Linked DNA regions of Homo sapiens. The protein of the gene in region 1 purifies or fractionates together with the protein of each later gene. This does not show direct contact. Each region holds a gene or a part of one and is shown on either strand. Other genes may lie near its edges.

What was found.
Region 2: the proteins of ARHGAP25 (region 1) and KDM5C purify together in Homo sapiens (affinity purification with mass spectrometry; 3 studies listed by BioGRID and IntAct, with this or other methods). This does not show direct contact.

Annotation. Positions count from the first base shown.
Region 1 is NC_000002.12:68,820,162-68,829,376, reverse strand, and holds the end of ARHGAP25 (rho GTPase-activating protein 25), read right to left. Parts: intron 7,038-9,215; coding exon 6,505-7,037; exon of another isoform or gene 6,375-6,504; intron 3,391-6,374; coding exon 3,183-3,390; 3' UTR 2,544-3,182; downstream 1-2,543. UniProt on the Homo sapiens protein: GTPase activator for the Rho-type GTPases by converting them to an inactive GDP-bound state.
Region 2 is NC_000023.11:53,189,708-53,194,703, forward strand, and holds the end of KDM5C (lysine-specific demethylase 5C), read right to left. Parts: coding exon 4,432-4,996; intron 4,145-4,431; coding exon 4,066-4,144; intron 3,930-4,065; coding exon 3,730-3,929; intron 3,626-3,729; coding exon 3,260-3,625; 3' UTR 3,131-3,259; coding exon of another isoform or gene 3,037-3,130; 3' UTR 2,451-3,036; downstream 1-2,450. UniProt on the Homo sapiens protein: Histone demethylase that specifically demethylates 'Lys-4' of histone H3, thereby playing a central role in histone code. Does not demethylate histone H3 'Lys-9', H3 'Lys-27', H3 'Lys-36', H3 'Lys-79' or H4 'Lys-20'.

The sequences.
Region 1 (9,215 bases):
CTGGCCCAGAGCCCGTGGAATCCAGCCAGCAGTTGCTGTGCCACTGTGTTCTCTGGCCTCCCCCTCTCAGCGGCCTTGGGCAGCCTGGGAATCTCCGGCTTCGTGCTTTTCTGAGGGGACAGGCCTTTGAGCAGAGTTTTAGGAAGTTGGTCAAAACAACAACAACAACAAAATGTTTATAGTTTACATCCTTTGCAGCTGTCTATGCACTAGGAATGCCACACATGGTCTCTCCAGACTGCAGGCTCTGAACAGAATCCACTGGAAGGGGATCATCCCAGCCAATACCCTAGTACAAATTGTCCTATCCAGTGTACAGACTTACTGGAAAAGCATCATATCTGCCCCAAACTTAAGATAAGAGTACCCTGATAAGGGACATGCTTGAGGCTGTGACAGAAAAGGAGTTTGGGAGGGAAGAGGGCAAGGGGTTTTCAAATGCACATTGATGACCTTTCTGGGTTCTCAGCTCATGAGCAAAGAGGAGAGCGGCTAACATAAAGGTGAGGGTGTGGCTGGGAAAAAGGCAAAGTTGATGGAGTCCTTTCCATGGAAGGGCTCTGAAAGTACAGGTAGGAGCTGCAGAGTCCAACAGCACCCCTTGACACAGGTCAGTCTCCAGATATTGCCTTCTAGAACCTGGTCCTTTGGTCCAGGTGAGACCTGGAGCTACCCTGTCATGCAATCACATGCATGCCTTTTGAGGGCATTAAAACAGTGCCATCAGACTCCAGATCTTCTTTTCTGGCCCTCAGGGGCTCCCTCCTCCCAGCCTTTTTCAGCAGGATGAAGGGGTTTGTGTGACCCTTGCACTCATAAGGTCCCAGGGTCCTAAAAAAAAACCCTGTTTCTTGTCTTCTCCTTGTATGCAAGGTGGCACAGGAGCAAATAGTAGCAACTTAAGCGAGCCAAACTCTTCTCTTGATTGTGAAGAGGGATTGACACTTGCAGGCTAGGCTGTCTAGTGCTTCTGAGGCCAACAGCTGCTCTGTTGTCTCATAATACTGGTGGAAAAAAGTAGAATGAGAGACACTGCCAGACCAGGAGGTAGTTGGGATTCAAACGTGGCACTTCCACTCAGCACGAGCTCTGGCTCCCGGACCCAGTAAGGGCCAATGACACGGGCCTCAAAACAGACTTGAGAGCCTCCTCTTTGCATCTTCAGACAAATGTTTTCTTTGGAAATTGTGACAGCAGCCACTTCCATATTCAACTCTGTTTTAGCCCCCAAAGAGTCAGTGTGAGGAATCCGTGGGAGAACACAAGGATATGTGCCTGGCAGAAATGCAGGCACTCGCCAACGTAAGTCAGGTGGTCAATAAGTGTTTCCATGTTTGCTATCCTGTTATTTAAAAACACCTAAAACTCAGGAATCCCAATATTTTATTGCTTTTCTTACGAATGTTCCAGATGAGTTTCCCCTCAATCTTCTGCAAGCAGGCCTAGATAGGAATGCCGTAGGAGTCGCCCTCCTTCTCCATCAATCTGGTCCTCAAAGGGGCTGGCGTTGGTAGAGCAGGGCCTGAGTAGCAGGACCAAGAAATGCTGATGCTACTGTCTGTACTTTCACTCTGTGGGTAATAAGTCCTGGCCATAGGAAGGGAGGACTAACCAGAGTGAAGAAGACAGAGAGAAAAAGGAATGACAGAGGAGGCCCATGTGCTGGGAAGGCTAAACTCTCACTGCAGCAACCATAGATTCCAAACCACTGATTAAGCCACGGGGCTTCAAGAGTTCAAGCACATTTATGGGAGCAGTGGGATGAAAGATATAAATTTGGTACAGGTAATACCTCCTGGGCAACTGGGTCAGGGGTCTCCGGAGCTGAAAGCACACTTGGGAACATCTATTGATCTTTGTTTTTATCTCATCATTATTCAGTTACTGTTCTGTGAATTTTATAATATACATTATGGAGTACTATAGTAGTACATATATATAATTTATAAATAAATAAATATATTGGGGGGTGTATGCTCAAACATTTTCTGTTGATGAGTTACCCAGTCAAAAGAGCTTGGAGACCATCCAATTAGAATGATAACAACAAAAAAAGACTCAACCAACCTACCTAGAGGTCCGGGGCCTGACCAGGGCCTCTGCCAAGCTGGCTTGACATAGAAGGGGAAGAATCAGCTGTCCACTGGGAAAGCCCCTCTCCCACCTATCATCTAGTGCCTGTTGTCCCTTTAAGGGTAAAATCACTTGCATTTTGGTGAAACAGGAAAAAAGAAACTATTATCATGAAAATTACTGTCTAAAACCACAACAAATCCTATCATAGTAGGAAGCGTTTGTTCCCAGGCCCTCCATACACAATTAAAAAGCAAGTAGGGACTAGATTACCTCTTCTCATGTAATTCCCACAGCAATTGTGTGAAATACAGAAGAAATGGGGGCTCCGCAAGTATAGAAACACCTGTCCCTGAAAGGCAAGTCAGGACTGAAATTCAGCCCATGCCCTGCTCAGCAAGCCACCTGCCCCAAGGAAGGAGTGTCTTTTGCTAATTCTCACAAAGGTGCCGTATGGATTAGCAATAGCCTTTTTTTTTTAATTTTTGCTTTATTTGAATATAATTTTCTCATCAATTTTGCTTGCATAAATACAGTTTGTTGCTTGTTCTGGTTTAGTCTAATAGTAAGTTGGAGAAGTCCTGGAGAATGGGCATCCTGGTGGGGTGGCAGAATGGGGTTCTCGCTTCAGCAGATGCAGCCCCCCAAACACAGCACTCCATGGATGAGGACTCAAAAGATGAATGTCATTTTCTGCCCCTGTGTCTCAGAGATGCCCTGAGGCTGTCTGACAAGGTGAGCTGTTCCACACAAAAAACAAAGAATTAATCACACCTTAGTCCAGCCTGAGTTGGGGCCAGTCTATTGCCTGGGTCCTGAGATGTGCTGCCTCAAATGTCTTCACTGGACGTGGTCATGCCTGAGACCAGAATGGAATAAAACAATCCATTTGAATACAGCGATGGATGGTCAGAGATGTCCACACACATCTCTGCTCACCCTCACCTTCCTGCAAACTCCATTCATTTATTTATGGGGAAATTTGATGTTTCCCTCAAATGTCCTTTCCCTCTCAGAGAATAATTTTGTTTCCCCGTCATCAGATAGCACTGAGAAAGGGGCCAGAGTTGGGCCTCTCTGGGGCTGTCCCTGCAGTACTCCTGGGACCCTTAAGCCTCGGTCTTGGGTTCCTTCATGGATTTGACAAATTCCTTGACTTCTTCTTCCAAGGCCTTGTTCCTCTTCTCAACATCCTCCCGGGAGCGCTCCATGTTGCGGAGGCTGATCTCTAGGGCTGCAGACTTCTTCTTTTCCTTCTCCAGTTCTTCATTGAGCCTCACCACTTTAGCCCAAACGTCATAATTTTCCTTCTCAAGGCTACAAGGAAGGAAAGAAAAGAATGAAAGAATGTGGCATTCATTCTAGACTCTTCCTTCCCCCTTGCTCACAACCTGCTGCTCATTTTCCTTTCAAATCACAAGACCCTTATCCAACCTCTCAGCTATGTCCCTCTTCCCACATGAAGATGTCCCAGAAAACCTGAATCCCCACAGTACTTCTGAGCCCCTCATTTGTCATTTTTTTTTGGATGGAGTCTCGCTCTGTTGCCCAGGCTGGATGGAGTGCAGTGACGCGATCTCGGCTCACTGCAAGCTCCGCCTCCCAGGTTCACACCATTCTCCTTCCTCAGCCTCCCTAGTAGCTGGGACTGCAGATGCCCGCCACCATACCCAGCTAATTTTTTCTTTTTTTTTGTATTTTTAGTAGAGACAGGGTTTCACCATGTTAGCCAGGATGGTCTTGATCTCCTGACCTCGTGATCCGCCTGCCTTGGCCTCCCAAAGTGCTGAGATTACAGGCATGAACCACCACACCCAGCCCCCTCATTTGTCATTTAACACCATCTTGTGACATCTATTGTGTTTTTTCTCATGTCGTTTAATGTTTTGTATCTTCAACCGGATAACAAAGTCTTTGAAAGGAGGGACCAGTTCTAACAGATCTATATATTCACTCCCACAGCACCTTGTATCAGTCCTGGAAGCCCCATCCATATTTCAAATTTCTCACACCTCTGTGCTCATGAGTGCCTCCTCATCCTGTGTCAATGGAGAGCATAGATCAGCACCCTTTCTTATTAAGGATCTCCTGGGGACCAAGATTTGGAGAAACAGAGGGAACTGCCCTTTGGGGAGCTGTGGTCCTGGCAGTCTCACCCTCACTTCTGAATCCCATGCCAGGTGAAAAATCTGTGGGATTCCTGAATTGCTAGGATTTTAATCGTTACTGGCCCAAATCCTAATGTAGTGCCAGGTGGCCCCCTGCCAGGCTGTGCTGAATTAACCCTTAGGAATGAGTGTACACATGCCGATTGTGTGACTGGAAATTTGTTTCAGAATTTCATTCTGTAGAGTGTGCCTCCCTTCTCCCCAAATGGCCTGCCCATTTGCACAAGGGAGACTTGAGCTCCCATGTGAGCCCAAAACTTGGGTTCTATCTTCAAGGGCCTTGGCCTATTCTGTGGGTAACAATCCATCTTCAGAACTTTGCTTACCCCCACCTATCTCTTCTTAAAGCTAAATTGATCTCATTCCATCTTTTTTTTTTCCTTTTGTTTTTTTTGAGACGGAGTCTCGCTCTGTTGCCCAGGCTGGAGTGCAGTGGCATGATCTCGGCTCACTGCAAGCTCCGCCTCCCAGGTTCACACCATTCTCCTGCCTCAGCCTCCTGAGTAGCTGGGACTACAGGCACCCACCATCATGCCTGGCTAATGTTTTATATTTTTAGGAGAGACATGGTTTCACCGTGTTAGCCAGGATGGTCTCGATCTCCTGACCTCGTGATTCACCCACCTTGGCCTCCCAAAGTGCTGGGATTACAAGCGTGAGCCACCACGCCCGGCCATTCCTTCTGACCCTCTCATTACAAATCTACTTTTCTTCTCCAAGTTCTCTGTACCCCTCTGGTTCTGGAAGAAATTCCAAGTGAGGCACTGTGCTAGATCCTGACCATGGGTTCCAGTGGAAGGTAGAATCTGTGTGGGCTCAGGAGCCTGGGATGGGAGGCTTCCCCAACTGATGGATTCAGAGGACTCTGACACATCTGTGGCAGCCAGTTCTTTTTCTACCCTGTTGAAGATACTCATATGTGAGGGCAGTGTGTGCCTTCTATGGGACTGCTTTGATCACTGCCAAGATGTCACAGAAGTCTTTAATTCTACAAATGATTGGTTTCAGGTTCTTAGACAAACAAGCTACATTTTGCTTCTGGATGGCAGCTCTCTGTGTGGAACAATGAATGAGGGTTCAAAGTAGTCTTCCCTTCAGATACCTGAGTCTGCATGGACTAAGACGTAGCCATAAATCTAAGAGCCCACGAATTCACATTTCACTGCCTCATGACTAGTGCTGATATGGGAACAGCTGGATCAAGGCTTTCTCTCCTGAAAACAAATTTGCCAGCCAATCAGTAGTGTGAAAAATATTTCAAGAAAATACTCTATCTACCCAAGAGAACAAATTGTGTGCACAGATCTTGGGAATTTGCATGTGACAGAGGCAATAGCTGCCTAACTGGCCTCCCGCTTCTGTTTGCCCCCTGCAGCCGGTGCTCAATGGGAAGCCAGTGAGCCAATGAAGCATAAACCAGGTTGAAACCACCCCGAAGCTTCTTACTCAGGCTTTGCAGTGGCTGACAAAACCCTACTGCGTCCTGGCCTCCTGTACTTCTCCACCCTCATCTCCTCTAATCACTCTCCCTGGCCCCAGGCAGCTTCCACTCTTCCTGGGTGGGACCATGGGGGACTGCTCTTTTCTCATGGCTCGGCACTGGCCATAGTCATCTCCCATCTACACACCTGACTTGCTCCTCATCTCCTTCAGGCCTTTACTTACCTGCTGCCTTCTCACGGAGGCCTTCCCTGACCCCCCTATTTTACATTGGAACCCATTCCTTGAACTTTCCAACCTCCTGACCCACTTTATTTTTCTCCACAGCACTTGCCATCAGCTGACATAACATATATTTTATTATATATTTGTATTGTCCATCTGTCCCCACTAGAAGTTCTGTAAGTGCAGGGACTTTTGTCTCTTTTGTTCAGTGCTATACCCTAACAACTGGAATGTGCCTGGCACAGAGGAGGGGCTCGAGGAATATTTGCAGAATCAATGAATGACCTTAACATAAAAAAAATTAATTTCCTTTAAATTAATTAAAGCATGTTGATTCTTGAACCACTGTTTGGAAATTATTGATTAAACTACTTAAGCTAGATATTTACATTTCCTAAATCTAGTTTAAAGTTTAGAGTGTTCACCAATTTAGCTATCTCATTGTTCCCTTTACTCTTTTCTTTCTAGGCCTGCTATAGATTACTGTCTTCCCCAAATTGAAGCTTTATGATGTGACTTCTCTGGCGGATGGGAACAATCCCTCTTGTCTCTAAAGATGGAAGCCAAGTGCCTCTCAGTGCCCCTCTGTCTGACTTACTTTTTAATCTGTTCCTCATACATTTGCTTCTGTGTTTCTATTTCCTTTCGTAGCTCTTGGACCATCCTCTGCAAAGAATCAATTTCCTCTTCTCCAGAGTTCTTTTTTCCAGGCCCAGTTTCAGAGTTTGGACTGGCAAGAGTATCTCCCTTGGAGTCACAGGCTTGGGAAGAGAGTGCACTGGCTTCCTCCCCAGGGGACCCTGGCAGGGAAGGGACGTTATCGTAGGTGGAAGTCCGTTGGGAGTCAGAAAGTTGGCGCAAGTCTTGAGACATCGTTCTCCTGTGCCCTTCCCCTGCCTTAGCCTCTGAGGAAGGCGACCAGAATTCATTTTTAAAGATCTCCATTTTGCTGCTGTTGGCACCCTGAAAAGCTGATGTCAAGAAACATTTCCGGTTAGGGAGTGTTTGAGTCCTTTTACGAGATTGCATTTTCCAGTCTCCTGGCTTTTCCCTGGGTACTTTGCTGCTGTCCTCCGGAAACGCATCGCTCGGCTGCTGTCCGGTGGGGCTGGTTGTATCAGAGTCGCTTGTCTAGAAAAGAAATGGCCATGGATGTCACATGGGGTTTTCACCTCTGTGTGTCATGCTCCCAAGGTATGGATTAGAGACCCCAAAACAAAAGTTTCCTGGTAGCATACCTATGAAATTCTTAATGTATCACATTACTTGATTATCTGCATTAGCATTTTTTTCCAAAAGGATATTGCAGTAAAGGAACCATGTTCTAGAGATGAAGTCTCACCAAAATCAAGTGTTTGTTTGTGGTTAAAGAGTCCTAAAGTAGGATCCTTATGTAATCTTAGAATGGGTGGTCTTTATAACTATGACTGAAAACCCAGAAGCCGTAAAAGTTTGATAAATTTGACCTTTTGATTTCCATGACCTAAAAAATTAAAAAGAACAAAAATAAAAACAAAAGAACAAATCACCACATGCCAAACCAAAAAAAAAAAAAAAAAAAAAACTAGCAAAAAGTATTTGCAATGCATATCAGACAATTGGTTACTCTCCTTAATAGATAAAGTTCATAAAAATTGTGAAGAAAGAGATCAACAACCAATGTAATTATGGGCAAAGGACAAGATCAGGCAGCTCACAGAGGAAAAAATGAAACTAGTCCTTGTACATAGGAAAAGATGTTCAGCCTCTCTCATAATACAAGAAACTCAAATTAAAATTAAAATTACTGAAATGCCAGTTCTCACTTATCAGATGAGCAAACCCCCAAAATTTGACAACAAACTCTGTTGGTGAAACTGTAGGAAAACAGTTCTTTCATGCATTGCTTCTGGAAGTGTAAAATGACACAAACTCCAATAATTTGTCTCAAAATCATACAATCAAATCTATTTACCCTCTGACCCATCAAGCCCACTTCTGAAAATGCATTTGAGAAATACATCTGCCTGAGTACAAAAGGAGGTCCCAGAGTTATTTATTGCAGCTTCTTTTGTAGTATGAAGAACTGAAAGGCTGGGTGCAGCGGCTGATGCCTGTAATCCCAGCACTTTGGGAGGCTGAGGAGGGTGGATCACTTGAGCTCAGGAGTTCAAGGCCAGGCTGGGCAACATGTTGAAACCTTGTCTCTACAAAAAATACGCAAAACAATTTAGCCCAGCATGGTAGTATGCACCTGTAGTCCCAGCTACTTGGGAGGCCGAGGCCGAAGGATTGCCTCAGCAGGAGGTCAAGGCTGCAGTAAGCTGTGATCGCACCACCGCACTCCAGCTTAAGCAATAAAGTGAGACCCTGTCACAAAAAAAAAAAAAAAAAAAAAAGAAAGAAAAAGAAAAGAACTGAAGGCAGTGTGTTCATCTATAGGGACTGGTACATCTACAGAATGGGACACTATACACCTCTAGAAAACATGAGGTCATATGAGGTAGCTGTTTATGTATTGACATGAAAAAGTCTCCAGAATATACTGCTAAGTACAAAAATGCAAGATACATAGTTTTGTGTGGGAGTTTGTGTGTGACTGTATGTGTATGTGTGTGACTGTAGAGAGAGAGAGAATTATACTACATTTTGTGTAAAAAAGGAGGTAAATAATTTACACTCATGTCTTCTTATATTTTCATAAAGGAACATTGGAAGGATAAATAAGAAACTAAGGCAGTGAGGGATGGGGTGGGTGGGGATACGGGAGGGAGCAGAACTTCTCAACGTATACCTTTTTCTATCTTTTTGATTACTTGAACCATGTGCATATATTATATATTTTTTAATGAAATTATAAAGAAAAAGGAGAGAGAATATGAGACCTAAACACAAAATCAATCACTTCTCGGCCTTTTGGCTAAGATCAAGTGAGACCTAAACATAAAATCAGACAATCAGGTTCGAGCCCTCCCTTTAACCTTTGCAGCCAATTGCTTGCTTCAGAAACCCCACCCGGAGTTAGAGGTACCTGGGTTCTGAAGGGAGGACTGGATCTGAGTCCTCCTCTATAACAAGCTAGTGCTACTACATTGGGCCAGCTGCTCAACCTCTCTGAGTTTCTGCTCCTCAATAACACAATACGAATGATAAATTCTGCCCTACAATGTTATGTAATATGAGGACTCTAGAGGTGATCAGTGTAAATTTCCCAGCATAGTGCCTGCCCACAGAAATCAGTAAATGGCAGAAACCTATTAAATGAGTAAAATAATAGCTATTCTCAAGGACTGTGGGATGATCTTGTTACATGAAGTATGAGCATTTTTA
Region 2 (4,996 bases), on another chromosome or scaffold:
CCAACTGATGCTCCTACCTCCTTCTAAGCTAGATTGCGGGCCCTTGGCCTGGAAGTGGAGACAGACTGAGGCCTGGGCCTTGCCTTCCCTCCAGAAGCTCCAGAGCTTGGGGGTGGGAGGAGAGACAGACCTATTAATCTTAGTGTGTTTCAGACACCAGGTAAGGCACAGGTGGAGACACTAAGGAGAAGGGGAAGAAGGGTTCAGTTGGGCCTGAAGGGTTTGGGTAAAGTCCTTAATAGAAGTGATGTCTCTTTCCATCCCCTTGTCACCTGCAGATTCAGGAGCCATCCTGAGGGATGTGGCAACATTTGGGAGGACTCGGCAGCTAGGTGATATCTCTATAATAGAAAATGACTTTGAGGTGAGAAGATACCCACTGCTTCCCTGACCTCATTCTCCCCAGCCCCTTATCTGAGGGGGAGGGTGTCCCCTGAGCCAGTCCCCCTCCCTTTCTAGGGGAGTATCTGGGAAAGAGGGCAGATTTGGAACCAGAGAAAGCTCTCTGGAAGAGGTTAGATTTGATCTGGGTCTTGCAGGATGATGGCCAGGGCCTCTCCTGCAGAGTTCATGGAATGCATGTCTGCTGTGAAGGAGTGTGTGAGGGATGGGACACAGACGTGCCAACATGGTAAAGGCTGTCTGAAAACTGGTGAAGGATGGGCCTATACCAGGGAGGCCTCCGTCCTGGGCCAAGCAGTTCTCTAACCTGGGAGTTGCTTCAGGTTGTAGGCACCATCTCTTCCTCTCCTGTCTGGACACTTCCTGTGGCTGACTGCCTTGGCAGTGGTAGTTAAGTGCTGAGATTGAGCCCCTTCCTGCCCATCCCAGCTCTCACACTCATCTCTCCTGTCAGCTCCTCCAACCCCCTTTTCATGATCAATTCCAGCCAAAAGGTCAGCCTTTTCCCCTAGACTGAGACCTGGGGTCAAGCTGGACCCGGCAGGGTTGTCCACGGACTCCTCTCTCTCTCCTTACTTGTATAGCCTAGGGTCCCAACTGGAAGACTAGATGAAGCAGGGCTGAGCCAGACCTTCCCACCAATCAAAGCTGCCAGAAGAGGGCGGGCTTTCTTATTTACCACTAGGTTCCTATCAGCTGCAAATATTGGGAAGGGGGAATGAAACCCATGAACGTTCAGATGAGAAAGCAAAATAAGAGTGGCAGTGTGCTAAGCTCCTGGGCTAGGGATCAGGACCCAGCCTTTAGCCTCCTCACAGCCCCTTGAGAGGACGGAAAGCCCTTGAGGCAGGCATGATAGGAAGCTGACTGGCTTAGGGCTTCCATACTCTTGCTTCCTCCTTTGTATCCTCGTATCATGGGCAGACTCCAAACACAGAACACTCAAGACCACAAAGAATGGTTCTTAGCCTTTGGAGGGTCAAGGATCCCTTTATGAATCTGATACAAGCTGGTTAGTCTTCTTGTCAGAAAAACACATGCATGCAAACACCCACAAAAACATGTAAACAATCTGTTGATGGTCCCTGATTTAGTCCAGCACCCTCATCTTAAAGACTTTGGGACTCAGAAGAGAGATCTTTCCAACTACTATGGGACCATTAATGGGCTTGAAACCACTTTGCTAAGTGAAAGAAGCTAGACACAAAGGATCACATATTATACGATTCCATTTATGTAAAATGTCCAGAATAGGCAAATGGGATGAGGGGTAAAGGACGCCTAAGGGATATGGAGTTTCTTTCTGCAGTGATGAAAATGTTCTGAAATTTTTTTTCGAATGATGGCTGCACAACTCTGAATATACTAAAAGCTATTTAATTGTATACTTTTAAGTGGGTGACTGTATGGTATGTACATTATATATATCAATAAGCTGTCTTAAAAAAGTGAACTCAGGGGTTGCAAATGACCACACATCTGAGCTTTAGTCCCCATTCATCAGGGGCATAACCTGTGGAGAAAAATCAGGGAATTATGCAGTAGATGGGTTAGACAGGAAAACATTCTAGGAAGAACGAGATTCTATGTATAATCTTAAGGGCAATAAAGCATCATGGAAGGTTTTAAGCAGTATATAATCAGATCTACACTTTAGAAACCCCCCAAATCACTGAATTGTACATTTCAAACAAGTGAATTTTATAGTATGTAAATTATATCTCAATAAAGCCATTAACAAAAAAATCCCTTTGGGAGCTTGAGGAGGATAAACTGGAGGGCATCAACTGGGGGAGGTTGTAGTGTAGGAGTTTGGGTGAGGGGGCCCGAGCCCATCTGTTTGGACTTGAGGGAAAGTGGCTTGGGGTTAGAGTCGGGGGAGGATCAGAATGTCTTGCCCAAGGTTAAGAAGCTGGTGGAACTTGATTTCAGAACCCAGAGCTCCCTGGCTTCAGCCCTAGTGCTCCTGCCAGCACTACAGCTGCTCCACTGACTGGTGATGGAAGCACTGTCTTCCCCGTCTAAGAGAAATGCACTTCAGAAACATGTTTCCAAAAAATGTTTCTAAGGGTTTTATTTCTAACAAGAGGAAAATAATAAAATAAAATTAAAATAGGCTTCAGTTGGAACCAAGTTTCTTGTTTTGCTTTTTTTTTTCTTTTGAACAAATTAATTACACACCAACAATCTTCTTTTATTACAACATGAACCCAGGAGGAGGAAAGGAGACAGGGGAGGACAGGGAGGGAGGACTGAGGTGGTTGTGAGGACAAGCACCAAAAGCTTTCTTCAGATCACAGGGAGCCCTGTTCAGCTCCCCAGCCAAATTCCTTTAAAATAAAAAACTGTGAGCACGGCTATGTGAAGTTTCCTCCTCCTGGGTGGAACAGTCAGGGGAAGGGAGAGGGAGAAGGGGGTAGGAAGGAAGGAAAAGAGGGGAGGAGAGTGGGGGCAGGGGTTAGTGTAGCATGGCCTGGCCAGGACCAGAACTGGGGAGAGAAGGGAGGAGAGTCCCCCAGTTTGCATATACACTGGCCTTGTCTCTGGAATGGTGATGGCCCAGCCCCAGCCACCCCCCTGCCCACCAGCCCATCCATCTATCTGCCTCAGGTGTCTGGGAATGCTGGTTAGAGGCTACCAGGGAGGGAAGACTCCAGGGGCCGGCCCCCAGGAGCTGAGGTCTGAACAATACCTTGGAGTCAGAATACAAAAGTCAAGGGACTCAGGGGTGGGCGGGTAGCAGGGATGGCCACCCCCCTACCCGCCCACCCCCCAAGAAGCAGGCTTGATGGTCAGAAAGAGGATCCTTGAGGCCGAGGGGGGTCTCTGTCAGGGTCTGTGCTAGGCTCAGCCACTGTCACAACTGTTGCTGAGGCGGCTGCTGTGGGCAGGGCAGATGCAGCCGGGGAGTCAGAGTGGAGAAAGGGGCCGAGGGGCCTGAAGTGGTCCCTTCCGCCGGTTCCAAGCCATTCTGGTTCTCCTGGGTGCTGGGGCTGCCAGTGGTGGGGATGGGTGCAGGGGGGCCCTCACCCCCAGTCTCCTCCTCCAGCTCTTCCTCCTCCTGGACCTCCTCAGCCTCTGGCCCTGAGCTCCGTACCCTCTTTGGCTCTAGCTCCTCTCGGGCTGGGTCATCGCCCTCCCCACCCCGATCCACCTTCCGCCGCCGCCGCCTCTCCAGGGCCCGGCCCCGAGCCCGACTCCCGTGACGCTCTGCCTTCTCCAGCTGTGATTACAGACAGGCAGAAAGACAGGTTGTGGGCCAGTGGTCAGGCCTGGGCTCCCTACTCGGCCTGACCTCCTGGCCCGGCCCATGACCCCTCTCCTCACCTCCAGAAGTGTGCGGATCCTCTCCAGGTCTGGGGGCTGTCCAGCCTGCAGCAGCTGCCATATGCTGTGGTTCTCATCCAGGGTCACCTCGAGCAGGTCCCCCTCCATCATGAGCTCCTCCAAGGGGGCCCGGGTTGCCTCAGGCAGTTCCAACACAGGGCCAGTCAACTGTGGCAACAGCGAGGACAGCAGCTCCAGATCTAGGAGGTTGCAGGAACAAGCGGCATTAGAGGCTGCCCTTGGTCTTATCCCCACCACTACAACAGAGCTGAGGACTACATGGGTCACTATGGTGATGTGCAGTCAACAGCCTACCCACACCACACCTAGACCTACCTCTCTTACCTGAGCCCTCCTCCGGGGCTACCTTCTCAGGACTGGTCACACTGTCTCCATTCTCCAGTAAGCCCTGGACCTGCGGAGGAGAGCAAGAATAGGTAGGGGCAACTGAAGTGAAGAACCAGGCCCTATTCCTCCTCCGCCAACCCCAAACTTGAGACCCTCCGCCTTCTGGAGGAGGAGGGAAGACACAGGCTGCCAGCAGGGAGCAGAGTCTAGGAATCTGGACAGATGCAGAATGGAGTAGGAAGGCTGGTCCAAAGAAAACTGAAAATTGGAGAACAAGGGGCAGGGCCGAGCCTAAACTGGGGTAGGGGCTAGGAGACAAGAATCTGAGGACAAGAGCTGGGCTGAGTAGCTCACCTTAGGCATATCCTTGCCACTGCCCTCTCTGAGGGGGTCAGAAGCAGGGGCTGCAGGGTAGTTAGGAGGCTCCTCAGGTCTAGGTTCAGCCTGTAGCCGTTGGCGGAGCTCAGCCAGCCGTCCCAAAAGAGCAGTCACATCTTCAGAGGCCAGAGCCTGCCTGGCGCGGCCTTGCCAGCTGATGGCCCTCTCTGTGAGGCACTGCAGGGCCTCGCCCTCGGGCAGCCGCACAGGCAGTCTCTGCAGGGCTACCAGCAGTGCCAGGATGGTCTCCAGGCGCGGGCGCCTTGAGCGCATACACAGTGGACACAGGAATTTGGTGTCCCATTCCCACCAGGCCAGCAGTGGGGATGAGGTGGGATTGGGCCTCGGAGAGCTGAGGAGGCGAGGCACTGACACACACCGCCCATGGAACCAGTCCTGACACAGGTCACACTGCAGAGCTCCCGCCCCAGCCAGCACCTGCCCACACACACAGATAGAGGTTGTAGAGGAGGCCGTGCTCGATGATGCCAGTGGACTGGGCTTGGCCGAATTGGTGCGACGCAGCTGCAGGATACCCTCC